Linked DNA regions of Homo sapiens. The protein of the gene in region 2 interacts with the protein of the main gene of each other region in a biochemical or structural test. Each region holds a gene or a part of one and is shown on either strand. Other genes may lie near its edges. The genes, in order: NANOS2, CNOT1, TNRC6B and CNOT4.

Region 1 (6,857 bases), on a different chromosome or scaffold from region 2:
ACCTGGGAGGTTCAATGGTGCAGTGAGCCGAGACCGCACCATTGGCACTCCAGCCTGGGCAGCAAGAACGAAACTCCATCTCAAAAAAGAAAAAACAAAAACCAAAAATAAAAATTACCTGGGTGTGGTGGCGTGCACCTGTAGTCCCGCCTACTCGGTCACCCCGTCTCTACTAAAAATACAAAAATGGCCAGGCGTGGTGGTGCATGTCTATAATCCCAGCTACTCCGGAGGCTGAGAGGCAGGAGAATCGCTTGAACCCGAGAGGCAGAGGTTGCAGTGGGCCGAGATCGCGTCATTGCACTCCAGCCTGGGCGACAACAGCAAAACTCCGTCTCAAAAAAAAAAAAAAAAATTAGCCAGGCGTGGTGGGGCGCACCTGTAGTCCCAGCTATTCAAGAGGCTGAGGGAGGATAATCACTTGAATCCGGGCAGTGAGCCAAGATCGCACCACTGCACTCCAGCCTGGGCGACAGAGCAAGACCTTGTCTCACAAACAAACCAAAGACGGAAACAGATACAGCCATTTCAAAGACGACTAGAAAACCTTTTTATTCACCAGAGCTCAATACTCAGGGTCCCGACCCTGTGCCAAAAACTGAACAACTTAAAATCTGACGGGGGCCCTTCTTCTCTTTGCCCCTAAAATAAAAGCTAGGCCATTGCCATTCCCATCCGGGTACTCAAACCCCCTTCTTATCGGCGGTTCCTTGACTTGAACGTTGGAGGTTGAAAAACACAGGAGGAAAAAAAAATGTCCTTTAGTCAACTATCACGATTTGGGGGGTCGGACGGGAGGTGGTCGAGAGATATGCTTCTCGCTGGGGGAAAGGACCCATCGGTGATTTGGGGATGGGGGCAGGTACCGGGTGCAATGGGCTGAACAAGGGGAAGAACAACCAGGGGGCATTGAAAGGTGTCAGCTCACCCCACGGCTCTCCATCCACAGGTGAGCCTGCGAAGACACGGTGCCCTCCAGTGATACGGTGCTCTCCAGAGTCCTACTCCGCTCCTGACGGATGGGTACTGAGGTCAGGGAAGGAATGAACAGGCGTGGTCCACGATGACACCGTGGTTCTGCAGGAGGCTGAAGATGGAGAAGGCTGGTCTTAAGTCGACATCCCATCTTGAAGTTCTTGAGTAGGCACTTCTCAGCCAGCCTTGTTCAGTATCTCCTAAGGGCTGGCTTGGGACAGCACCGTGGAATCCTGGAGGTTCAAAAATCCAAGAACTCCACAAGGAACAGAGAAGTCGAAGGGGCAGGGCTCCAGTCACCAGCAGGCCCCACGAGGACAAAAGATCCATGAACCGGGGCCCAGAGGGCGCTACAGGGCCGTGCAGGAAGGGTTCCCGCGGCACCAAGGACCCTCAGGCCAACGCCCACAGGCCAGAGCTCCGAGGGCTGACAGGTCCAAGGGGGCGGGGCTGGCCTGGCTCCCAGCAGCCTCCACTGTTTCAGGATCCAGCCAGGGTGGAGTTCTGGGGGCCAGAAATTCCAAAGGGCTGGGTGACTGGAAGAGAGAGTTTAGGGACTTGGGTGGGATGGACCAGGAGGGTCAGGGGTGCGGGTGGTGAGCATCTCACGATGCTCAGCGCTTGACCCTGCGTCCGGCCGAGTTGCGCCCGCTGCGGCGGTAGAGGGACTGCTGGCCACCGTTAAGCGGGCAGTACTTGAGCGTATGGGCCTGGTCACCGGTGGCCCCGCACACGGGACACACGTAGTGCCTCAGGATGGGACACACCACCACGCCATCCGGTGTCTTCAGCTGGTGTGAGGAGTAGACGTGGCGGGACTCCCCGTTGTGCTTGCAGAAGTTGCACAGGGTCCCCAGGCCCCCGTTGGCCCCTGGCGCCCCCAGCCCCTGATCCTGCCCCAGCGGAGGCCCGGGACTTGGCTCCTCAATCTCTTGGGTCTCCAGCCTTTGACCCCGACTTGCGATCAGCGCCCACACCACCTGGCTCAGGTTGAAGTAGTCCTTCCACATGTCGAAGGGTGGCAGCTGCATGGCACCAAAGCAGGGGTGGTGGGCCACAGGAGAGGGGCTGGGGCTGGGGGCCCGTGGGCAAGGGCAAGAGCAGCAGGCGTTTCCCAGAGCAGAAGGGAGCTGCATCCCCTTTTATAACGCCCAGAGACTCTTCTAAGTAAAGGTGGAGCTTAGGATTTAAAGGGCTCACTCCCTGCCCATAACCCCCATCTGACTTTAGTTCTTCACAGAGATGTGGAAGGAGGTCATTCCCCTGATCTCTGGTCCCAGCTCTGCTGCCAAGGTGCTCTGTGACCTCTGGGAAGACACTTCCATTCTCTGTGCCTCAGTTTCCCTATCTGTTCAAAGAAAGTCCATGTCTGCAAATATCCCCCACCCCTAGGCTGGAGGGGCTGCACCCTTCATAGACTTCAGAGTTATTCCTAATCATCATAGCAGCCAGGCTGGGCGCAGTGCCTCACACCTGTAATCCTGGCACTTTGGGAGGCTGAGGAAAGAGGATCGCTTGAGCCCAGGACCTCTAGGCCAGCGTGGGCAAAATAGCGAGACCTTGTCTCTACAAAAAATAAAAAGACAAAAATAATAATAACAACATGACCTGATTTATTTTATTTATTTATTTACTTGAGACGGAGTCTTGCTATGTCGCCCAGGCTGGAGTGCAATGGCACGATCTCAGCTCACTGCAACCTCTGCCTCCTGGGTTCAAGTGATTCTCCTGCCTCAGCCTCCTGAGTAGCTGGGATTACAGGCGCCCACCACTAAGCCTGGCTAATTTTTTTTTTTTTTTTTTTTGTATTTTTAGCAGAGACAGGGTTTCACCATATTGGCCAGGCTGGTCTCGAACTCCTGACCTCAGGTGATCCACCTGTCTCTGCCTCCCAAAGCGCTGGGATTACAGGCGTGAGCCACCGCACCCGGCCTAGTATTTTCATTTTACAGAGAAAGATATGAAGCTTGGAGAGGTTAAGGAATGTATCCAAGGTCACACAACAAGGAAATGGCAGAGTCGGGTTTCATAATCACTCTGGGAACTGGGAATTGATGTTAAAAGTGGCAGAGGAACTTGGCACAGAACAATCTCACTTAGAATGCCCCCTCTTGGGCTAGGCATGCTGGCTCACGCCTGTAATCCTAATATTTTGGGAGGCTGAGGCTAGAGAATCACTTGAAGCCAGAAGTTTGAGACCAGCCTGGGTAACATAGTGAGACCCTGTTTCTACATATAATACAAAATCAGCTGGGCATGGTGGCATGTGCCTGTAATCCTAGCTAGTGAGGAGGCTGAGGCAGGAAGATCACTTGAGCCCAGGAGGTTTAGGCTTCAGTGAGCCATGATTGTGCCACTGCAGTCCAGCCTGGGCTACAGAGTGGACCCTGTCTTTTTTTTTATGAGATGGAGTCTTGCTCTGTCACCCAAGCTGTAGTGCAGTGGCACAATCTTGGCTTACTGCAATCTCCGCCTCCCAGGTTCAAGTGATTCTCCTGCCTCAGCCTCACAAGTAGTTGGGATTACAGGTGCCCACCACCACACCTGGCTAATTTTTTGTATTAGTAGAGATGGGATTTTGACATGTTGGACAAGCTGGTCTGGAACTCCTGACCTCAGGTGTGATTCACCTGCCTCGGTCTCCCAAAGTGCTGGGATTACAGGCATAAGCCACTGCGTCTGGCCAACCCTGTCTCTCTAAAAAAAAAAAAAAAATAGCCCTTTCTTGGCCCCATCCATTGTCTTAAATCCTTCCTGGCCTTTGGAACGAGCAAAAGCCTCATCTCCCGCCCACCGCACCTGGGGTTCTTCTTCCACCCACAGTCTCCATGGGCCACCTTGATATTCAACACATAGTTACTGAGGCTCCATATTGGGTGCTGGAAATTCAGCAGTGACCAAGGCTACCTTATGCCTGCTTCATGAACGAGTTCAGGAGAGCGACCAGTAAATGAGAAAACGCTAGACTGTAAAGACCTGCTGGCCTGTGAACCGGGTGTTCTAAGAGTGGCTGGCTCAGGAATGGGACTTGGAAGCTGAGACCACTAAGAAGAATCTTCCAGGAAGAGGAACACAGGATATGGAAACTGTGGCTGGGTGTGGTGGCTCATGCCTGTAATCCCAGCACTTTGAGAGGCCGAGGTGGGTGGGTCACCTGAGGTCAGGAGTTCGAGACCAACCTGGCCAAGATGGTGAAACCACCCCCATCTCTACTAAAAATACAAAAATTAGCAGGATGGGCACAGTGGCTCACGCCTGTAATCCCAGCACTTTGGGAGGCTGAGGTGGGCGGATCATGAGGTCAGGAGGTTGAGACCAGCCTTGGCAACATGGTGAAACCCCGTCTTTCCTAAAAATACAAAAATTAGCTGGCGTGGTGGCGGGTGCCTGTGATCCCAGCTACTCAGGAGGCTGAGACAGGAGAATTGCTTGAACCTGGGAGGCGGAGGTTGCAGTGAGCTGAGATCATGCCATTGCACTCCAGCCTGGGTGACAGAGCGAGGCTCCATCTCAAAAAAAAAAAAAAAAAGTAATAAAAAATAAAAAATAAAATAAAATAAAATAAAATAAAATAAAATTAGCTGGGCGCAGTGGTGGGTGCCTGTAGTCCCAGCTACTTGGGAGGCTGAGGCAGGAGGATTGCTTGAATCCAGAAGGTGGAGGTTGCAGTGAGTCGAGTTAGGGCCACTGCACTCCAGCCAGGGTGACAGAGTGAGAATCCATCTCAAAAAAAAAAAAAAAAAAAAGACATCCTGAAATTTGGGAACAGCAAGGGGGCTGGAGTGGCTAGAATGGAGTGAAGATCCCAGGATGAAGCCAGCATGATTTGCAGAGGCTGGACACCCTCAGACTCTGCAAATCTCCCTTAGGGCATGTTTTGGAATTGGTGAGGGCGTTTTGAGTTTGTCACCGTGATTGGAGGTGTGGCTGGATTTAGTAGGTGGGGACCAGGGATGGCAGATATCTCGCAGTTCGCACCACCAAGACCTGTTCTGAGCCCCACTTAACTTTCCAGTGTCCCACTGAACACCCATCTAGGTAGAAAAACCCATTTATAATTATCCAAATTCAGAGCCTAGCTATGTTTTATATATAAGCACTAGGTGCTTTTTGCATTATTTTAAGATAACACTCATTTTTCCTGGAATGCAACCACTGTGTTCATTCTGGTCTTCAAGCTCTTGGTTTTTCTGAGAACTTTATTCAGTTATTCACCAATTCTAGAAGCCACAACACTCAAGGCAATGCTGCTTGTGGTATCTGTCTCCAAACAACATACCATTTGTTTGTATCTCATTCATGGTGAATCTACACAGAGAGGCTAGTGTCTGCCCTGCTCAGATGATTTTTGGAGTGTCCATGCCTGAGCATTTATACACTTACATAGACATTATTTTATTATAAATTACTGTCTTTTTATTTTCCCTTTATATTTTGGTTAGGACACGACACGATATCCATTTTTGAAAATAAAATTTGTGACTGGGCACAGTGGCTCACGCTTGTAATTCCAGCACTCTGGGAGACCAAGGCAGGCGGGTCACTTGAGGTCAGGAGTTCCAGACCAGCCTGGCCAACATGGTGAAACCCCGTTTCTACTAAACATACAAAAATTAGCCGGGCGTGGTGGCACGCACCTGTAACCCCAGTTACTCTGGAGGCTGAGGCAGGAGAATTGCTTGAACTCAGGAGGTGGAGGTTGCAGTGAGCTGAGATAGCACCACTGCACTCCAGCCTGGGCGACAGAGCAAGACTCCATCTCAGGAAAAAAAAATAATAAAATAAAATAAAATTTGTATGTTGGTGAGCTATATTACCTATGAGTTTAATTTTCAAGGTCCTAAAGGGTAATTGCAAAATGTTATCTATAATGTTGGGGGTCCTCTCTTGGCCCCATCCATTGTCCCAAATTCCCATTCCTGTAATCCCAGCACTTTGGGAGGTTGAGGCAGGAGGATCACTTGAGTCCAGGAGGTTGAGACCAGCCTGGGCAGCATAGTAAGACCTAGTCTCTATAAAAAGTACAAAGAAGTTAACTGGTGATGCATGCCTATAGTCCCAGCTACTTGGAAGCCTGAGGCAGGAGGATTGCTTGAACCCAGGAGGCTGAGACTTCAGTGAGCTGTGTTCGTGCCACTGCACTCCAGCCTGGGTGACGGAGTGAGACCTCATCTCGAAAAAAAAAAAAAAAGATCATCTATGAAATGAAGACACAATTGAGACAATAATCATAGGCACACTCATTACTGAGCATCTGTGGGCTGGCACCATGCTCAGGGCCCGACCTGTGTCATCTGTAAATCCTCCCAGATCCTGTCAAATAGTCTGTTAATGGTCCTGTTTTACAGATGAGCAAAGGGAGACTTAGAGGGGCTCAGGAGCTTTTCCAAAGTCATATGGACAGTAAGTGTTAGTCTGGGCTGGGCACAGTGGCTCACACCTGTAATCCCAGCACTTTGGGAGGCTCAGGCGGGCAGATCACTTGTGGTCAAGAGTTAGAGACCAGCCTGGCCAACATGGTGAAATCCGGTCTCTACTAAAAATACAAAAATTAGCCGGGTGTGGTGGCGGGTGCCTGTAATCCAAGCTACTTGGGAGGGTGAGGCAGGAGAATCGCTTGAACCTGGGAGGTGGAGGTTGCAGTGAGCCCAGATCGCACCACTGGACTCCAGCCTGGGTGACAGAGCAAGACTCTGCCTCAAAAAAAAAAAAACAAAAAAAAACACCATTAAAAATAAAAATAATGTTAAAAAAAAAAAAGGTGTTTCTCCGGAGCTGAAACCCAAGACTGTTTGACCCCGACCTTGGACATCCTCCCACCCCCTGTAGAAGGAGCACGCAAAGCCCGCTGTGAGCGAAGAACCTGCCTAAGACCCCAAGGG
Region 2 (7,028 bases):
GACGCGGTGGCTCACACCTCTAATCCCAGCACTTTGGGAGGCCAAGGCAGGTAGATCACTTGAGGCCAGGAGTTTGAGACCAGCCTAGCCAACATGGTGAAGCCACTTCTCTACTAAAAAAATACATAAATTAGTGGGGCGTGGTAGCACATGCCTGTAATCCCAGCTACTTGGGAGGCTGAAGCACGAGAATCAGTTGAACCTCAGAGGTGGAGGATGCAGTGAGCCAAGACTGCACCACTGTACTCTAGCCTAAGCTACAGAGTGAGACCCTGTCTCATGAAACATTAAAAAAAAGGCAAAAAACAACCAAAAAAAATCATTAAAGCAGTAAACAAATTATTAATCATGATACCTGAATTATTAACCATGATATCTGAGACTCAAAACTAGTAAGTGAATTATTTGAAAAGTGTGTGCACATGCAACATCACTTTAAGTCATTTTGTATCGGCCTTCTCAAACAGCTTTCATCCTTCCTGGTTAACAGAAATGAGATTGTCAGATATCACATTTCCTTTTTAAATCTTAATTTATTTAAACCAACAAATATTTGGGTATCTACTATCTGTCAAACATCGTGTTGAGAATATAACAGAAAAAAAAAAAAACACACAGACATGATGCTTTGCCTCACAGAATTACAATCTAAAATGATGGAAGACATCAAACAAATATGGTGATTATTAAGAATAAGTGGTAACGCCCAGTGCCATATATAGACAAAGAAAAAAATTATTACAGACAAGCAGTAATACGTTTTGTACCTATACCAAGGAAATAGCCAACTTACACGAAGGGCTGAGGCAAAACTGTTTTTTAAGTTGGTAGATATGCTCATGAGCAAAGGTTCCCTGCATGTAATCATAGCCATTCCAGCTGTCAAGTTACGCATCATGTGATGAGCTGCTATTCGCATTCGAGATTCCTCCGAATCCAGGGCAAAATCCTTCCTGACTATTTGCTCACAAGTAGTCATGGCAATCTTAATTGATCGATCCACCACAGGATGGACCAGCTCCTGGACAGCCCGTTCAATTGCCTGACGCACACACTGCTTCAACTGTGGATGGGCCTGAAACAAGGGAATCTGGGGGGTTGGGGAGGACAAAGTCAACACCTTGTTTAAATAAGACAATCCAATTCCTACTGGCAATCACATTCATGATTTTGTAAATCAAGATTAACCAAAAACTACCAGTTTCTACTTAAAGTTAACCAATGGAAAATTCGGGTAACAGAAACTGAGCTCCATACAGGGAAATGTATTCAGTATACCCTGTGATACACAATAATAGATATGTCTTTTTTTTAAATCCAAGTTTAATGGACAAACTGTTCATTACAATATGCATTAACTACTTAAAGACACACTGCTGGCTTATTTAAAATTTGTGGCTCAAGTGCTCTTAAAAGAAAGCAACTTCTCCACTAGCTTGGGAAAATGTAAAAAGAATAAAGTTTATAGAAAAAAGACTTCTTACAAAAACTATTAAAATTAATTCATCAGAATAGTGAGCATTTTACAGTGCCCACTGAAGTATTTGGCTTCATTTGAAAGGCTGTTTCTAATCTTTTATTGCAGGTGTAAATTATGCCCCAAAACTTACTTGGTCCCTTTAACTTGTTGAATTAAAAAAAAAAAAAATTAAACTAGCATATAATAGTGTTCACAACACTAAGAGTATTCTAAAGATGAATCACAATTTCTGGATCTAGGTGTCCCACTGCCTCTCACTCCACCCCTCTAAAACTAAGTACCATGTCTATAGGAGTGGGGATGGGGGGACAAGGATAAAATGATTTCTCTGATACCCTTTCAATTCCTTTTAATAAAAAGTTCAATGTATTAATGTTACTCTTGTATTTGTGAACATTTTCAGTTTCTAAAAAGTAAGGACAATGAAAACTCCACTCACCTGATTCTGTATTATATATTCTGTTAAGTAGAATAAAAGACTAAAGATAACAATAAAATGTCCCCTTGAATGTACAAAGCAAATACTAACTATAGGAAAAAGGACTGATCAGAGGTCATCTTACATGACCATATTGTATCAGACCTCCTTCTGGAACCAGGCCACAACAACATAACTCAAAGTGCTAAGTCCTACTTCAAGATCTTAGCCTAGAAATTGTATACACACCCACAATCAGCTCATTTCCAGCCTTCAGGTGGAAGAAATGGCTTACTGCAGAAGGCTAAAGTGACAAGATAAAGAAAATAAAAAGCTATGATATACATTAAGCATCTTTTACTCTGTGTAAGGAATTCCTGGAGATTGTGATTTTATTGCTAGCTAAATTTTAGTATCATGGGTTTGGATATGAGGAACCAATATAACTAACATCTAGTCACTCTATCTCTTAAGGGAAGAAGAACAATCCCAACTGAACTACACAGCAGTTCTAGATCTCCATCCTCTCTGACAAACTCTACAACCTAGGAATCCAGAGGGAAGGGCAAAGAGCTGAAGAAAAGGTGGCCAAACAAAATTTACCTTATCACAAACTAGAAGCTGGGAGAATGGAGCAGTGTTTACTTACTGTTGGATTCAGAGTAATGTGTGGTGCCAAGCCCGCAAGGGAATAGACATTGATGTCGTGGTAGCTGTACTGTGGCTGTGGTGGAACCGTGGCTGTACAAGTGGTGTTGGTAGCTGGTGTAGTAGAAGTTGCTAAATGTCAAGTAATAAAAAGAGATTTAAAAAGTACATTTGTTGACTTTATTATAAAATTAGCTTAATATCATTAAGTGGTCATTATCTAATTAAACGAATTAAATTGGGAGAGGAGGGAAGGATGTAGCAGGTCCTATTTTTCCCACCCTGAAAGGGAAATTCTGTTGTTATAACAGAGATATACACGAAGTATGTTAAACTATGTCAGTGCCAGTGCCCCACAGCACAGAAATCAACTGAGCAGCCATGCCATATTGTCAGGCCCAAGTCCTATAAACTTAGTCTATATTATAAATGTATGTTTTCAACCTAGCCTGTTCCTAGGTTTATCTGGGGATTCTCAGCTGCTGAGGACTGAGAAAGAAAGAAAAGCTCAATTTATTCTAACCACAACTCCCAATCATTCAACACTCCCATACCCTTCTCCCATCTTCTTCATGTAGATAAAACAGTCCCATTCCCTTGGCAGATCTAGCAGGTCTGGCCATACCCAGATTTGAGGGGTTAACAGGCCATCATAGTATGCAGTTATTTCTGGGACTTCACACAACAAAGGAGATAACCTGGCCTAGCTGGGGTATGAGAGGCAACTGATTAAATCACATTTAGTTAATAATATGCATGAACTGTCAGGATGGAATCTAAGATGGTAACACAAGGCCTAGTCATTACTTCTGCTTGATAATTAGAAGGCTCACCAAAACGTATACAAAGTTTCACCACTACATTATGTGGGAAATTATAGTTTGCGATATACATGGACAAGTACCATTTAAGATAGTATCCTAGCTAACAGAAGCCTTCCTTGACTAATTAGCACACTTACTTGTGGTTGTGATGGGAGGGAGTTCTTCTGGCTGCTTGACATCTTTCTTTGGAGCAGAGAGTTGCTCATCTAAATTCTTCAGGCGATCTTTATCCTTTAGGAGGTTTCCAGGTTTTAGCTCATTGATGTCTAATGCAAGGTTCTTGCAGAGAACCTCGATTTCAAACTTCAAGTTTAACTGCACAGTTCCAGAGTTGGATTAGAATTTTTAAAAGAAAACTTTAGTTTTACTCATAATATACTCTACTTTCAGTTATTATAGTACTTCCCCCGAAATACCCTGCCTTCACTGTAAGTTTTAATAATGTGAAGGCAAAGAATGTTCCAGAGGACAAGGAAGCAGTAAATTACCTTTAAGTCATGCTCCTGATGTAGCTCAGCTAATACATTCATAATTGCCATTGTCCAAGGGTTTGGTGGCCTAAAAACCTAAAGAAAAGCTATTATGTTAAGCTGGCCCAAAATGTGCCCTTTAATTTGGATTATTTAAAACAATTCAATACAACATAAGGGGGTAGGGGGGAGTCAAACAAATAAAAAACAAAAAACAAGGATTAAAAAATAACCAAAAACAGTTAAACATAGTTAAACACTTATACCTCTGTAGCCATAACAAAACCCCTAGCCTTCTCACCTATATCACATTTCAAAAACAAAACAAAACAAAAAACCAAAAACCAAAGCCAACCATTATAATCTTTCTTATTTCACCCAGCCTCTCAAATTGGAAATCCAAGTGCCATAGAGGAAAACAGACTTAACTAGCTTTACCTCACAAGAACTAAGAATATAATCTCTTGACCTCATGCTAAAACAAAGCAATGCTTAGAAATTAGTCATAAATAAAATATTAAAATCTACTCACCACACTACGAATGCTAGATTCTAAGACTTTGGCAACAAAGGGCACTACATAGAGCAATTCTTGTTGTCCTTTAACATAAGCCTCTAGCAGCAATGATTTCACATCCAAGTCCTAGAATAAGAAAAATACTTTCAAAAGCGGGGAATATACCCCCCAAAATGGTATAACAAAACCAAAGAAAAGTATTTTGCCAAGCTTATCCCCAAAACAGGAATCAACATAATGTCTAGTCCTTGCCTTACAAAAAGGGGTTAACAACTCAAAACGTGGGCCAAAATCTTACAAAACCCCAATAATCATTAAATAGCTCCAAACAGCCAATACTTGTAATCATAATGTGCTGAAGATTCTCAATTTTTACACATTTAGATGAAACTCACAGTGTGTAAGATGGGTTTGTTTTTAGCTAATGTGATCATTCCTAGCCAATGTCCCAAGTTCTTCAGCAAAGAACGATCTGAGAAATTGGCTGCAGCTTTATCAGAGGTCAGGAGCACCTGAAATAGTGTAAGATTAAGAAAGATATGAGAATAAGCTTATGAAAGAAAACTCAACTAAGTATTTGAGAATTCCATTATCCTATCCTAAAGACAAGTCATCATTTCTAAGAACAGGCCCCAAAGTAGAATTACTCTGTATATCATTCTCAATATCATTTTGCTGTGTTTATGATTCAACAGTGCTATTTTTACCTTGAAGAAGTCTTTACATTTTATTTTTTCAAAATAGGTACAAACACATTGCACAAAATTCAAAAAGAACACAAAGTTATGTGCCAGCTATCCTCCCCTAGAAAAGTATTTTCAACTCTGAAAACCTTAGCTAGGTTTAAAGCAGAGACCTAACTACAAAGCTATTTTGAAGTGCTAAATTAATTTAAATGAGGATGATAGCCATGCTTAAGTCCTTAAAGGCAGCAAGCATACAAAGGAATATAATCAAATTAGCCTCCTATTGCAATCTTCAGTATACCCAGGTCATTAACAAATCTCTGCAGCCAACCAAGATAACTTTCTGAGATATAGTATAATACTGTTTATATACTTCTTTTCAAATTTCTAAAAAACCCAAACCATTTAACTGATTCTCCGGTTACTGTTTTTCTAAGGGGGGGCAGAACTAACATAGGAGAGTGTTTTGGCTGCAGGTATGCACACATGTATATACCCATCTACTCTGTGGTACCTCTTGACTTAGGGCTATATTTAAACTTCTGTTTAAAAAACATGGTCTTGAAACTTTGCTACAGAGTATGTGGAAACTTTTATGTATCCCAACCACCCTTGCTATCAGATAATAAAAACGAAATAGAGCCATGTTCCTTAACTCTATACAGCAACAGCAGAATGGCACAAGTCAGCTGTGCAACAGAGAGCCAGGAATTCTTTTGCACTACAGCGTAACCAAGAATGGGGAATATTCCCATCCACAGGTTTAAATATAGTGCTGGTTCCTAAGCCAATGACCCAAGTTATTGAGCAAAGAATGACCACAGCTGTATGCTGGTTCTAGAAGTTTTTCCTCCTAAGAAATAAATGATGGTTTAGAAATTAAAATACTTGAATTTTGTTGAATAAGCCTCAGCTCAGTAGAATTTGACCTTAAACTGCACAGACTCCTAGACAACAGCTATTCCACAAACAGATTTAGAGTCTAAAGATATCTTGCACTTGAATACTACAAGATACAAACGAAAACATTCAGGACAGCATTGTTTATAATAGTTTAAGTGATTAACAACACAAATGCCCAGCAGCAATACAAATACATACAATGGTTTTCTACAAGACTATATTTTTCTGTTTTTTAAAAAAGAGGACTGGCCGGGCACAGTGGCTCAGGCCTGTAATCCCAGAACTCTGGGAGGCCGAGGAGGGTGGATCACCTAAGGTCAGGAGTTCGGGACCAGCCTGGCCAATATGATTAAACCCCGTCTCTACTAAAAATATAAAAATTAGCTGGGCATGGCGGTACAACTATAATCCCAGCTACTCGGGAGGCTGAAGTAAGAGAACTGCTTGAACCTGGGAGGTGGAGGCTGCAGTGAGCCGAGATCGTGCCACTGCACTCCAGCCTAAGCAACAGAGTGAGACCACATCTCAAAAAAATTGAAAAAAAAAAAAAAAGGGGGCTACAGCAAAGAGCATTATCATTATCATGAATAATATCCAGGGGAGAAAAAAAAGTAAGTGAAAAAAAAAGAAAAGGATGTACAGAGGGCGACACCATACAGAATATGCTAACCAATACTATGCTGCTTATGTATAACAGTGGTAAAGTTCTAAAATCATGCATGGCATGACAAAAACAATTCATAATAGTGGTTACTTTCAAAGAAAAGGCACAGGGTATGCCTATAAATTTAAGTTCTGCATAAAATTTAGTTCCATATAAGAAACAAAATCTACAGCAATTTCCAGAGGTACCTAATATTGACAATATATATGGAAAAATAGCAAAAATCCTACCTATATAATCAAATATTTCCAAATTCAAAGCAATAATTAAAGGAAATATAAGAACCAACTCTTACTTTAATGTTTCTGTAGGTCTCATTCAGAACCATCTTGTTAAATTCAGGATTCTTCAGCGTGTCAAGGAAGTTTGAATACAGGCTATGAAAGTTTGGCTCAATACTGACTCTCTTCATAACCAG
Region 3 (7,028 bases), on a different chromosome or scaffold from region 2:
GAAGAGCACTCTGCCAGGAAGCACCACTAGTAACAAAGGAAAAGGGAGCCAGTGCCAGTCTGCAAGTTCTGGGAACGAATGTAATCTTGGGGTCTGGAAATCTGACCCTAAGGCTAAATCTGTTCAATCTTCCAACTCTACTACAGAGAACAACAATGGACTAGGAAATTGGAGGAATGTGAGTGGTCAGGATAGAATTGGACCTGGCTCTGGCTTCAGCAACTTTAACCCAAATAGCAACCCATCTGCCTGGCCAGCACTGGTCCAAGAAGGAACTTCTAGGAAAGGGGCATTGGAAACAGATAATAGTAATTCCAGTGCACAGGTTAGCACAGTAGGTCAGACATCCAGGGAACAGCAGTCAAAGATGGAAAATGCGGGTGTTAATTTTGTTGTCTCTGGCAGAGAACAGGCTCAAATTCATAACACTGATGGACCAAAAAATGGAAACACTAACTCCTTGAACTTAAGTTCACCAAACCCCATGGAGAATAAGGGAATGCCCTTTGGAATGGGCTTGGGGAACACCTCCAGGAGCACTGATGCCCCTTCACAAAGCACTGGAGATCGAAAGACTGGGAGTGTTGGATCTTGGGGTGCAGCTAGGGGGCCTTCTGGAACTGACACAGTCTCTGGACAAAGCAATTCTGGAAACAATGGGAACAATGGAAAAGAGAGAGAGGACTCCTGGAAAGGAGCTTCTGTTCAGAAATCAACTGGGTCAAAAAATGACTCTTGGGACAACAATAACAGGTCTACGGGTGGGTCCTGGAACTTTGGCCCCCAGGACTCTAATGACAACAAATGGGGTGAAGGGAACAAAATGACATCTGGGGTCTCTCAGGGAGAATGGAAACAGCCGACTGGGTCTGATGAGTTGAAAATTGGAGAATGGAGTGGTCCAAACCAACCAAATTCTAGCACTGGAGCATGGGACAATCAAAAGGGCCACCCCCTCCCTGAAAACCAAGGCAATGCCCAGGCTCCCTGTTGGGGAAGATCTTCCAGCTCCACAGGAAGTGAAGTTGGAGGTCAAAGCACTGGAAGCAACCACAAAGCAGGAAGTAGTGACAGTCATAACTCTGGCCGTCGGTCGTACAGGCCCACACATCCTGATTGTCAGGCTGTCTTGCAGACTCTTTTGAGCCGAACTGATTTGGACCCCAGGGTGCTCTCAAACACTGGCTGGGGCCAAACTCAAATTAAGCAGGACACAGTGTGGGACATTGAAGAGGTGCCAAGGCCTGAGGGGAAATCTGACAAAGGAACTGAGGGGTGGGAGAGCGCTGCCACACAGACCAAGAACTCAGGGGGCTGGGGAGATGCACCCAGCCAAAGCAATCAAATGAAGTCTGGATGGGGGGAGCTCTCAGCCTCTACAGAGTGGAAAGACCCCAAGAACACAGGAGGCTGGAATGACTACAAGAACAACAACTCTTCCAACTGGGGAGGAGGACGACCTGATGAAAAGACACCTTCCTCTTGGAATGAGAATCCCAGCAAGGATCAGGGGTGGGGAGGTGGACGCCAGCCCAATCAAGGATGGTCTTCTGGAAAGAATGGTTGGGGGGAGGAAGTCGATCAGACAAAAAACAGCAATTGGGAAAGTTCTGCAAGTAAACCTGTGTCTGGGTGGGGTGAAGGAGGGCAGAATGAAATCGGGACTTGGGGTAATGGTGGCAATGCAAGCCTAGCTTCAAAAGGTGGGTGGGAGGATTGCAAAAGATCCCCAGCATGGAATGAGACGGGCCGACAGCCCAATTCCTGGAATAAACAACACCAACAGCAGCAGCCCCCACAGCAGCCGCCGCCACCACAACCAGAGGCTTCTGGTTCGTGGGGAGGCCCACCCCCACCACCTCCAGGCAACGTTCGACCTTCCAATTCCAGCTGGAGCAGCGGGCCACAGCCTGCAACACCTAAGGATGAGGAACCCAGTGGTTGGGAAGAGCCATCCCCACAGTCAATTAGTCGGAAAATGGACATTGATGATGGCACTTCAGCATGGGGAGACCCTAACAGTTATAACTACAAGAATGTGAATCTGTGGGATAAGAATTCCCAAGGGGGCCCAGCACCTCGAGAACCAAACCTGCCCACCCCAATGACCAGTAAATCGGCATCAGGTAAGCAGTGGCTTTCTCTTGCAGCTTTTGATGAAGAAAAGGAATCCTAGACCAAGGCATTTTTATTAGGTGAATTTATTCAACTTAGTTTTGTTCTGAGATGCTTTCCTACAGTTTCTACTCTGTTGCTAACAGAACCTCTTTTTATGAAATGCTAGTGATGGCAGATGCTGGTAGTACATTTTAATGTTCTTTCTTGGCAAAAGGAAAAGATGACAACCCTGTGTTAGTCCCCAAAATTATTTTTCTGTAATTGTATTGGTCTGCAGAATCCAAAAGACATATCTTGCCAAACAAACTATGTTCTAGATTTTAAAATAAAGAATTAAAGTAGTAGCAGAAATAGACCTGATTTCCATTCTGGTTCTACCCATGGACATGTCTCTGCTTCTGTTTCCCCAGCAAAGGGAAATAATTCTGTGTTTTTCCAAAGGCCATGATGATGCTGAAGCAAAGCTGGATCTGGAAGGTTTCAGTCTCTTTCTGGATGATTTTTAATGATTACCTCTGGAATGGGAGTACTTTGTATAAGAGATTGTTATCTCAGTCCTAGTGAGATGGCTCACACCTGTAATCCCAGCACTATGGGAGACTAGGGCAGGAGGATCCCTTGAGCCCAGGAGTTTGAGACCAGCCTGGGCAACCTAGAGAGACTTCAGTCTCTACAAAAATATTTTTTAAAAATCAGACGGGTGTGGTGCATGTGCATATAGTCCCACCTACTCTAGAGGCTGAGGTAAGAGGATCGCCTAAGCCCTGGAGATGGGAGGCTGTAGGGAGCTATGATCTCACCACTGCACTCCAGTTTGGGAGACAGAGCGAGACCCTGTTGCCAAAAAAAAAAGAGCGATTGTTAGGATAGTCAGTTGCCCAGAATTAAACTTTCTTCCGTCACTATTTGAATAGGAAACATCATACCTGGTAAAAGTAGCAATGGTAATGCCATTCTTAGTTTGTCATTGTCAACTTGAATGTCCCTATAGAGCATATAGTTCAACAAATTAAGGGGGATGCACCTTTCAGTCTTTTTTTAGTTAAAATTAATATTAAGAACCAGTTTTCTTTTTTTGAGACAGAGTCTCACTCTGTTGCCCAGGCTGGAGTGCAGTGGCACGATCTCGGCTCGCTATAACCTCCGTGCCAAGTTCAAGTGATTCTCTTGCCTCAGCCTCCTGAGTAGTTGGGATTACAGGCACCCACTGCCATGCCCAGCTAATGTTTGTATTTTTAGTAGAGACAGGATTTCACCATGTTGGCCAGGGTGGTCTCAGACTCCTGACCTCAGGTGATCCACCCGCCTCAGTCTACCAAAGTGCTGGGATTACAGGCATGAGCCACTGTGCCCAGCCAAGAATCAGTTTTCTCCGAGTACACCTCTAGTGTTCAGCTAATCCATTTGTGGCCTCTTAGAAAAATGATTACTTTTAACTCATTCTTTTTTCAAGTATTGAAAAGAATGAGGAAGGAAATGAAGATTTCTCACTGGCTCCCCATGCAGAATAAAACCTGCTAAAATTTTAAAAAGCTACATCCACATAGCAAAAACCTTCAAACTGTGTGGAAAAGCAAAAGATAGTCAATAAAATAATCTTTGGCCAGGCGCGGTGGCTCACGCCTGTAATCCCAGCACTTTGGGAGGCCGAGGCGGACAGATCATGAGGTCAGGAGATCGAGACCATCTTGGCTAACACGGTGAAACCCCGCCTCTACTAAAAAATCGAAAAAATTAGCCAGGCGTGGTGGCGGGCACCTGTAGTCCCAGCTACTCGGGAGGCTGAGGCAGGAGAATGGGGTGAACCCAGGAGATGGAGCTTGCAAGTGAGCTGAGATCACGCCACTGCACTCCAGCCTGGGCGACAGAGCAAGACTCCGTCTCAAAAAATAATAATAATAATAATAATAATAATAATCTTAACCCCTAGGGTCTCTTCCCAAAGGTAATCTCTTAGAAGTTTGTGTCCCATTCAAAAATTTTACAGAGAAGGGATTGTACTTCGTATACTGTTCTTCACCTTGCTTTTCTCATTATACTTATAGCTTCCAATTTTAGCACATAGTCTGCTGCTTAATTGCTTCATATACAGTATTTCTTTTTTTTTTTTTTTTTTTTTTTTTTTGAGAGGGAGTCTCACTGTCTCCCAGGCTGGAGTGCAGTGGCGCAATCTTGGCTCACTGCAACCTCCACCTCCCGGGTTCAAGTGAGCCTCCTTCTCAGCCTCCCGAATAGCTGGGATTACAGGCATGCGTCGTCACGCCCAGCTAATTTTTGTATTTTTTGCTGGAGATGGGGTTTTGCCATGTGGGTCTGGCTAGTCTTGAACTCCTGACCTCAGGAGATCCACCCGCCTTGGCTCCTAAAGTGCTGGGATAACAGGCGTGAGCCATTGTGCCTGGCCTTTACACAGTACTTCTTTTATGGGTGACCCACAATTGGTCTAACCAGTCCCCTTGTGGTGGATATTTAGGTTGTTTCCAAATTTTTTCTATCAGTGATGCGGTGAGTATTGTTATACATGTAATTTCACCTATTTTTACAAGTATATTTATGGTATAATTTTCTGGCAGCCTGGGCATGATGGCTCATGCCTGTAATCCCAGCACTTTGGGAGGCTGAGCCAGGCAGATCACAAGGTCAGGAGTTTGAAGCCAGCCTGGCCAATGTGGTGAAACCCTGTCTCTACTTAAAAAAAAAAATACAAAAGTTAGCTGGGTATGGTGGCACACGCCTGTAATCTCAGCTGCTCGGGAGGCTGAGGCAGGAGAATCGCTTGAACCTGGGAGGTGGAGGTTGCCATGAGCCAAGACCACGGCATTGCACTCCAGCCTTGGGGATGGAGCAAGACTCTGTCTCAAAAAAAAAAAAAAAAAAAAAATTCCTGGCAGTTGAGTTACTGGGTGAAAAGTTTAATGTGCATCGGATTTTTTAAAAAGTAGCATTGCCAAATACCCCTCACATGAAAGTTGAATCTATTTACATTTCTACCAACAGAATATAGGCATGCCTGTTCCTTCCACCTTCACCCCACTGGATATTATGGCATTTCATTTAACAAATGATTCTTAGAGACATTTCCTTTCTTTATAGTCTGGAGCAAAAGCACACCACCTGCTCCAGATAATGGTACTTCCGCTTGGGGTGAGCCAAATGAAAGCAGTCCTGGGTGGGGCGAGATGGATGATACAGGAGCATCGACCACAGGCTGGGGGAACACGCCCGCCAACGCTCCCAATGCCATGAAGCCTAGTAAGTGTGAAGCTTTTCATTTTTGAGGGATCCTTTTTTTTTTTTTTTTTTAATTGAGACGGAGTTTCACTCTTGTCCACCCAGGCTGGAGTGCAGTGGTGCAATTTCGGCTCACTGCAACCTCTGCTTTCCAGCTTCAAGCGATTCTCCTGCCTCAGCCTCCCGAGTAGCTGGGATTACAGGCGCCCGCCACCACGCCCGGCTAATTTTTGTATTTTTATTAGAGATGGGGTTTCTCCATGTTGGTCAGGCTGGTCTTGAACTCCTGTCCTTGTGATCCACCCGCCTTGGCCTCCCAAAGTCCTGGGACTACAGGCGTGAGCCACCGTGCCCGGCCGGGATTCTTTGTTAAATGTTTGTCAAATGTCAGATTTGAGAATCTGACATTTTGGTGAGGGCTGTTTAGTTTTAAGCTGTTGATTCAATGAGATTCAGGACCTTGAGTGTTAAATAATTAGTTAATAGCAAACGGTTGTGGCTTGGCTTGGCGTTTCTTAAAATGTTTAAGGTGAATTAAAAATCATAAGTTAATTTTGTTTTAAATTTAGTATCTGGACAGAATTATAATTTTGATGTGATGCTCTTTTAGCCCAGTGACTATGTGCTCACCATATCTAGCTTGCATTTCTACTTGTTAGTATAATTTAAAACAAGAGTTCCTGGCTTTTAATGTGGAACACGATCTGTGCTGCCCAGTGACTTCATCCTTCTGCACCTTCCTTTGCCGTTGTCTCTCTTCCACATAAGAGCATTTCAGATTTTTTAAACCTGGCATAAATTTCACTTCAATTTTTTAAATGAAGAACGTCACACTTATTCAGAATCATTGAAAATCTAAAATCTAAGCTGTACTTGATCCAGCTGGTGATGTGTGGTCACAGTAATGAGCAGAACTCTGTGGACTGAGGCTATGGAATGTCTCATTGACTGTTGCTAAATTCAGGTGCCTGTTTACACTTACTTTTGTAACTTTCTTTAAAATGTTCCAACATCTCTTTTCTACCATATAGAAGCAGATTTAAGGGATTATCTTTTGATTAAATAATGAACATTTCTGGAATGACCAAAATTCAAACAAGAAGATAAATTCTGTTAAGTTTATCACATTATATTCAGTACTCTTACAGTGCCACATAAGGGAATGTGATATTAGCTCTATTCTGGAAATTCACATGTGTGTATATGTAGTAATTTGACTACATTTTAAAAATCATGAATCTCCTCGACCTCATTAAAATAGTTAGCTTTATGAAAATTTTGTTTTTATCATTATTTCTATTGTGAAATCAGTCGTATCATCATGGGAAATGTAATCTAGTAGACTTGAAATAGACCCAAAATGCTGCAAGAAGATGTTAATCAGACCCTGGGCACAAAGAGATCCTTTAGCAGTATATTCAGGATTTTCATGTGTCTTTCCCAACCTCAGGATCACCTCTCTTCTATCACAAAACCACTTTTCCTCAGATTCTAAAAATGTCTTCTACTCTTCAGGATCATCTGTAGTTATAGCACACATCCTTTCTGTGGGTAAGTTAAATGTGTAATGTGCGGAAGAAAGGGCTAAACCATCATAGTCTACCAGTTGATGGAGACAGTTACCCTGTGATCTTCTGTAGCCTGTCTTAAATTTGATGTTATGAATCCTATGATTAAAA
Region 4 (7,028 bases), on a different chromosome or scaffold from region 2:
AATGACAACATTTTTAATGCAAACAATGATGTGCATAAATGTTAAAAGCATCTAAAATAAACCACTGTTTACTACAATAACTTCATTCTTATACCAAGCACTACAGAGGTGGCAACGAATAAGATAAGTAATAGCATATGGTTTGCCATAAAATAACCATACAGGGCTAGAAAAGGGTGGGTACAAAAGATTAAAGGAAAAGATCAAAGCTTGTCAAACCAGAAAGATCTGTTTTGACTTAGCTTTTATTCTTAGCTTTGATATAAACAAATTTTACATAGTTTACTATACAGTAACTTTATGTTTCGCTTTGTGGCCTATTTTATATTTATTTATATTTACATACACATATATATGTGTCTAATTTAGTTTTTAATAATTTAAATAATCTTTACTCTTAAAATGAATAAACACAGACTTCAAAATTTAAAGAATGTGTTTTTGAAGAAATGGACTCAAACAATAATCCATGTAGTTATTATTAGCTATGTTTGAAAATAGTTCTTACATCATTTTAGCACCAAACAGACACTGGGCTATAATATTTAACACCTAGACATTAGGACAACATTCAAACAAATTTAACTTTGGAATTTTAAAAAAAGATCATCAACATAAATTAATTACAACATTTACTTTTAAAATTCATTTGATAAAAGTTAAACTTATCAAATAAAAAAGAACAAAAAACCTAACACATCAAATTTAAAGAAAGTTCAGGATAGAATAAAATTCCCAAATTATATTTATTAATATGATTTTCTGACAGGCCATAACAAAATATAATCTAAGATAAGAAGATCAACATATCAGAATGAGACTCTCTACTGAAGACCATAAATTTATTTAAGCATTGACACAATATAGTTTACCCAAAACCATAATGAGATGGAAGATAGGAGATGACTGGTCTCCTAAGATAAGTAAGATTCTGAATATGGGATACTCCCTGTTCATTTACAGGATTTAAATGACTTTAGTGATTCCTGGAACTAGATATCCTTGAATATCTGTGTCCCCAACACACAAGGCTTCCTTCAGATAACACCCACTTTCCCTTTTATAGTATTTTCCCCCTAATTATATCAAGGGGGACCTCAATTAGGTAATCAGAGCCTTTTAAAACCTAAAATCCCTTAATTTTCTCTTTAATAAGGAAAGTATTCCCTGGGCTCAGAGTAGTCTGCAAATCACCACAAAAGGTGAACCCATCAAAAAGCTAGTCTGAAGTGTTACCAGGGAAAAGTAGGCAGCAAGCATTCAAACCCAGAAATTGTGACTCAACATTTCCCATACAGCTAAACAATTCTGCATAAATGACAGACCTTGTCAACAAGGATTTTGCCTGAAAAAGATCTAAAATGAAAAGAGAAGATCAACTGATAAGAAGGTAAGATGTCTGACTATCAATATCAATACTTACGTATCGTACCTCTGCAGTGGTGTCACTTTGTTCTTATTTTTATCAACTGAACCCGTAGATAGCTGAAGAAAATTGGGATTTAATTTATATAATTCTTGAAGTAGCTTCTGTTCATATTCTTGGTGTTTACCCGCCTAACGAAAGAAGAAATTAAAACTGCAGTGGGATTCACAAAATGGCTGGTATAAAATACTGAATAATCTTCTGAATTATTAAATATATTTTAAATAAAATAAATAATATTTTTAAAAAATAAAATATTAAATAAATTTTAAATAAATTTTTAAATAAAACAAGTAAGAGAAACCTGTGAGGATATCACAAAACTTCTAGATCAATGAAAGTCATTCCAACAAAATTATATGATATATATCTGATAAATTAAATTAAGGCATTTCATCAACCCATTTATTGTACAGAAAAGCATATTAAGGGAAGAACATTTTTGCTAGCTCAAAAAGTGTAAGGTCCACTTTAAACCTACTTCCAAGTCTTTCATGTAAGAATTAAGTCTTGTAACACTGAGTTTTCTGAAAATCAGCCAAAATTCATCAGTCTCCTTTTTAATTTGGAGATTAGCACTTGAAGTAATACATAGATGAACAGTTTTACTATATTCTTCATTATCTTGACACTAAGTAAAACTTCCATGAATTAGTTTTTGCTTTCTCTTTTCTTCTATGGTTATCAAAAGTAAAATAAAAATTAATGTATTTTAAACTCTAGACCCAGGGTCAGCAATTTACAGCCAGTTGCCTGTTTTTATAAATAAAGTTTTACTGGAACATGGTCATGCCCATTCATTTACATATTGTATTTGGCTGCCATTCTGCTACAAAGGCAGGATGTAGTAGTGCAACAGAGGCAGAGTAAAGTAGTTGTGACAGAAGACTACATACATAGCTCAGAAACCCTAAAATATTTACTAACTGGCCTTTACAGAAAAAGTTTGCCAACCTCTGCTCTATACACAAAAGAATGCTATGCTTACTCTAGCTGGGTAGGTGTACATCAAAAGGCAATGTCACAAATATTATGGGAAAAATTAGGCAAAGATTGCCTGTGGAAGCTAATTAGACACAAAAATAAATGATAATGAACTTACTTTGAGTAACATTTTACTATTTGCATGTATATCTAGACTGGAAGAATAGTTTTACTTACCTTCAGGGATGTTAATTTTTTTAAATTATGGTCTAAATAGATGTTATACAACAAAACCAAAACGGAACAAATCAAAACAATAACAAGTGAGGGCAATTGCACTTAACTGAGCATAATTGTGTCATATATACTGCACAATGCATCGTTCCCTGTTCTGAGAGGCCACTTGCTTGTTTCTATTGGACCTATAAATATTTCCTATGGCACTAAATTTTGAGTTACGCAGTAACAAGGAAAGATTTTCTGATTTTTGCCATAAAATTTATTCAAATTTCTTTCCTACATCAAGAAAGTGTTTTAACAACAACAACAAAAAATCCCCTTTTAAAGTAATTTTAAACTCAGCTAAAGAAGAGCAAGATAAATTCAGGACAACATTATGAAATTAGTTTTAAATTATTTTTAAAAATACATTAGATGTGAAATTTACATTTTTAAAACATGAAAAGTCTTGAAAATTATTTCTGGAATCAATACTTCAGGAGATACGGCTTTCACTAATATCTGTGGAAAGCCACAAAGAGCTCAACTTGATATTAAAATGACTCTACAGGGGCAGTTCATAAAGACAGGTTAAATCCCATTACAAACAAGTTCCAAAGGACAGCCCATACATTTTATTTTATTGTTTAATATTACTTTAAATGAGATCAACTGGGTGGGACTTGTAAATTCTGATAGACAGAAATTGATAGGAAATATGAATAAAGTATACCCTCTACTAATTAAAATTTAGTTTGAAATTTTGAAATGGTTCTACCTTAGATTTCATTCAAGAAGGTTTCATCCAAAAAACAAACAAAAAAAGCATTAAGAAATCAGTTAAGTCATCTGTCCTTATTAAATATCAGATAGACCTTATTTTAACATTGTTTTTGAATCATAAAGACCATACTATCAAGAAAACTCTGATGTATTTATTATAATGGGATTTAATCTGTACTAGCTCCAAGTCAAAAAAGGTAATACTCCATTTAACAATCTTTTCTTAAAGGAGCCCCTACCAGACTTTCTCTAGTTTGACCTGGAGAATGAAAGGTAGCAATGAATGCCCCCCACCTTCTAAATGAGAAGTATTCCTGAAAAGTCCACAGCAACAATCTGAAGTCCTCATCTACAATAGGGAAGTGCAGCATTGTGCTTTGGTATAATCCTCATTTAATATGTCGTATGGTCAACATTTTTACTTGTTAAGGCATGTTTATACTACAAATTGAAAGGAGACAGGAGAAGAGGAAATGTAAAAAAGAACATAGGATATTAAGCCTTCAATTCACCCTTTACAGGATACTGACTCAGTGGACACTTGCATGGGGAGAATAATTTTGTAAAAATAATATTAGTTTATCAGCATCATTTGACAGAGTATTATTTTCTAGCAAGCTCTGTAAAGAGTATAGATTGGTTTAACAAATAATTACAATATCCCACTTAGCTTTCATTTTGTTGACATTCCCCTTAAAATAGCATTTCCCAAAGTGTTTTCCTGGTCAACTAAGTTCTGGTTGTAAATTCCCTTCGTGGATCTGTATTAGCATATTAAGGACTCTGAAAAGTCTTAAAGCAAAGAAACCTGTTCATCTTCATTAATCTAGCATTTCAAACTTAGTTGACCACAGACACATTTTTATTGTAACAATATCCTGCAGAACTGACCTTCCATTAAACACTTCATTTGGCAAATGCTACTTTAAAGTAATATCAGTTTTTACAAAATCAAATCCTTAGTTTTTGCTTTTGCAATGTTAACTAATAAAAAAAAAAGTACTCCCTTTTCTGCAAAGTTGATAATTCACATGACTTTACTACCTGCATTTCCTCTTTTGTGAAGCTGGCCGCCTCATCCCCCAATTCATGAAGATACATGCAGTCAGGTTTTGGACACTGCATATTCTTTAAGAAGTAACTGCAGTATTTTGTTGTACCTAGAGATGCCTGCAGGAGGAAGAGGGGTAAAGGAAAAGAAGACTCAATGTGAACTGACAACACAATGAGAATCTCCATGTTTAGTGTTTTCAAGTCACCTAAAATGAGGCACAAACATGACAAAACAAAAAGTATGGCTGCAAATACTAGAGAACTAAACTCTTATTAGCAGGATTTATTATAGATGAGGCTCATTTGGAAGAACTAAAGGAAACATCTGTCTATGGTTTCCAAAACTTGGACACCCAAATCTTCCCTAGATATAAGGAGAGGAGATAGACAAAAAAATCTGTTCCATGTTATGAGTGGTTAGACACATAAGAAGGCAAATTCCTTTTTCTAATTATGCCATCCTCCTTCCACTAACAGTAAAGCTTTGCTTAGTGGGACTCTTCACTGAAACTGGAATCAATGTCCATATATTTAAGGACTACCTATTTCTGAAGAAAATAATGGTACTATTTTCACAAAATAAGATATATGTAAAAATGCGATATTTTAAAAGATTATCCCCGATAATGAATGTGTTTATTCCTATCTGGTAAAAGAGGACCCTACAGAAACCAGCAGTAAACAAATTAGCTATAATAGATGGTATGGACCCTAAGACAGACTCTTCAAATTAACTGTCAAATTTAATATATAAATGCTCAGTTCTCCTCTACTTACTATATTTTATCTCGTCTTCCTTAAAAAAAAAAAAAAGAATCAAGAGGACTATATTACCTTAAGTGTTCTGCCATCTACTACCACATTGTTGACACACTGTATGGCTCTGAGAGCGTCTTCTGACCGGATATAGGTTACATAAGCACTGGCACTTGGACCCTAAAGTGAAAACATCCCATTCCACTGTTATTAGTTAAAAATTAAACAATACTAAAAAAATTCTACTGCAACCTAGGGAATTCTAAAGACCCTGACTACTACTATTACTAATGACAATAATTAGTAGTAGTAGTGGCAGTTTTGATTAAACACTAAACTAGCTCATTTGAAAGTAATAATACTCAATGAATTTTATCTGATTTTAAGAATACTGTAATATATGTGAATAAAATATTACTTTGGCTTGGGATTTATTTTTTTAGACAGTCATTTGACAGGCTCGTCAAGGTTATAAAAAAATTAAAATTTAGATTAAAAAATAAGACTTAAAGACTATGTCAAATTACATTCTCAAAAATAAATGCAATCTGGAAAACTATTCTATCTGATAACAGCAGCATAACAAAGACACTATTAAGTTTTCAATATCTGAAAATATTACAGATTAGAAATCACTATCGAATCCTCATCTATTTATCACATTGCCTGATAACAGACTCACCTCCCCCTCCCTTTCACTCCATCACTAAATGTTTGTTTTACTATTTCCCTCTTAATTGTTAAGTCCTAGAAGGGTCAAATAAGCAGCAAAAAATCCCCCACCCCACCAACAGAGGTCACTACATTGCTTAAGTCCTTGTCCCTCAAGCTTTCTAATCAGAGAGAGCAAAGTTTCCTTTGGAACAGCCCAGGTCAAGCCCAGACCATAGGGAGGAAAAGCAAAAATCCCTAAAATTAGTTACCTGTGAGCCTGCATATGATGTGCTATTATTGATGACAACTTTATGTATTTTACCAAACTTCCCAAAATATTCTGGTCGTTTTAAAACCTATAAAAGAAGAAGAAATAAGGTATAAACTGTCCCCATTTTAAACAACTTTATCCTTATAATGGAGACATTCATCATCCCTCTTCAGCAAAAGGAAAAAGATAATTTTTAAAGTTTTCTAATAAATGTCACTACCTCCTAATTGCAGTTTGTGTAGCTAACCTATAGGAAATCAAAAGAGTTTAAAAGCTATTTTTTTTCTTGACCCACTGAATAGAAACTGAGACTCACTAAATTTGGTATTATCTACTATGTTCTAATAACTGCTCCAATAGTCTATGGGATCTTACCTGTACAGTATTCTTAAACACAAAACAGATCAAAGATCTTAACTACATTGCCATTAAGAGATGATCCTTACACGAAAGCAATTCTTCAAAAACAATGACCAAAATTATGTATTAAAGGTAAAGACAGAATTGAAAGAACAGACATAAAGACAGTCTTTACTCATAAATCTATTGCATATAACACTGTTTATAAATCACAAATTTCAAGTAACAGAGTGCCCACTCAACCCTCTATGCTTTATGATTTATCATTGTGCATACAGTTTCCTATGTCAATCAGTTTTACCATTTCTCATCTGTCTCATGAGGCTTTTTCCCCTACTTTTCCTGGTACGTAACATTTCGGAAACAAATTTACACGTTTCTTTCTTTATTACCTGGTTACTTCTTGGTGGTACCTACGTACCTCATCTCCTTTACTTTGTGAACACTATATGCATTCTTTCAGCTTCTCTTACAAACTTAACCTTGGCTAATTTGACCGGTATGTAACTTGATAAAAAGACATCTCACATAATTTGCAACTACCTCAAAATTCTGTTTTCCTAGAATGTATCTTTAGACCTA

What was found.
Region 1: the proteins of CNOT1 (region 2) and NANOS2 form a complex in vitro, tested with the Homo sapiens proteins (one study listed by BioGRID).
Region 3: the proteins of CNOT1 (region 2) and TNRC6B form a complex in vitro, tested with the Homo sapiens proteins (one study listed by BioGRID).
Region 4: the proteins of CNOT1 (region 2) and CNOT4 form a complex in vitro, tested with the Homo sapiens proteins (one study listed by BioGRID).

The regions. Positions count from the first base shown.
Region 1 is NC_000019.10:45,912,688-45,919,544, forward strand, and holds NANOS2 (nanos homolog 2), read right to left. Parts: upstream 2,092-6,857; 5' UTR 2,007-2,091; coding exon 1,590-2,006; 3' UTR 527-1,589; downstream 1-526. UniProt on the Homo sapiens protein: Plays a key role in the sexual differentiation of germ cells by promoting the male fate but suppressing the female fate. Represses the female fate pathways by suppressing meiosis, which in turn results in the promotion of the male fate.
Region 2 is NC_000016.10:58,542,814-58,549,841, forward strand, and holds part of CNOT1 (CCR4-NOT transcription complex subunit 1), read right to left. Parts: coding exon 6,906-7,028; intron 5,821-6,905; exon of another isoform or gene 5,686-5,820; intron 4,870-5,685; coding exon 4,753-4,869; intron 4,484-4,752; coding exon 4,373-4,483; intron 3,937-4,372; coding exon 3,859-3,936; intron 3,686-3,858; coding exon 3,508-3,685; intron 2,679-3,507; coding exon 2,548-2,678; intron 1,091-2,547; coding exon 794-1,090; coding exon of another isoform or gene 572-793; exon of another isoform or gene 340-571; intron 1-339.
Region 3 is NC_000022.11:40,264,911-40,271,938, forward strand, and holds part of TNRC6B (trinucleotide repeat-containing gene 6B protein), read left to right. Parts: coding exon 1-2,126; intron 2,127-5,211; coding exon 5,212-5,370; intron 5,371-7,028.
Region 4 is NC_000007.14:135,409,092-135,416,119, forward strand, and holds part of CNOT4 (CCR4-NOT transcription complex subunit 4), read right to left. Parts: intron 6,172-7,028; coding exon 6,085-6,171; intron 5,342-6,084; coding exon 5,240-5,341; intron 4,523-5,239; coding exon 4,397-4,522; intron 1,558-4,396; coding exon 1,424-1,557; intron 1-1,423. UniProt on the Homo sapiens protein: Has E3 ubiquitin ligase activity, promoting ubiquitination and degradation of target proteins. Involved in activation of the JAK/STAT pathway. Catalyzes ubiquitination of methylated RBM15.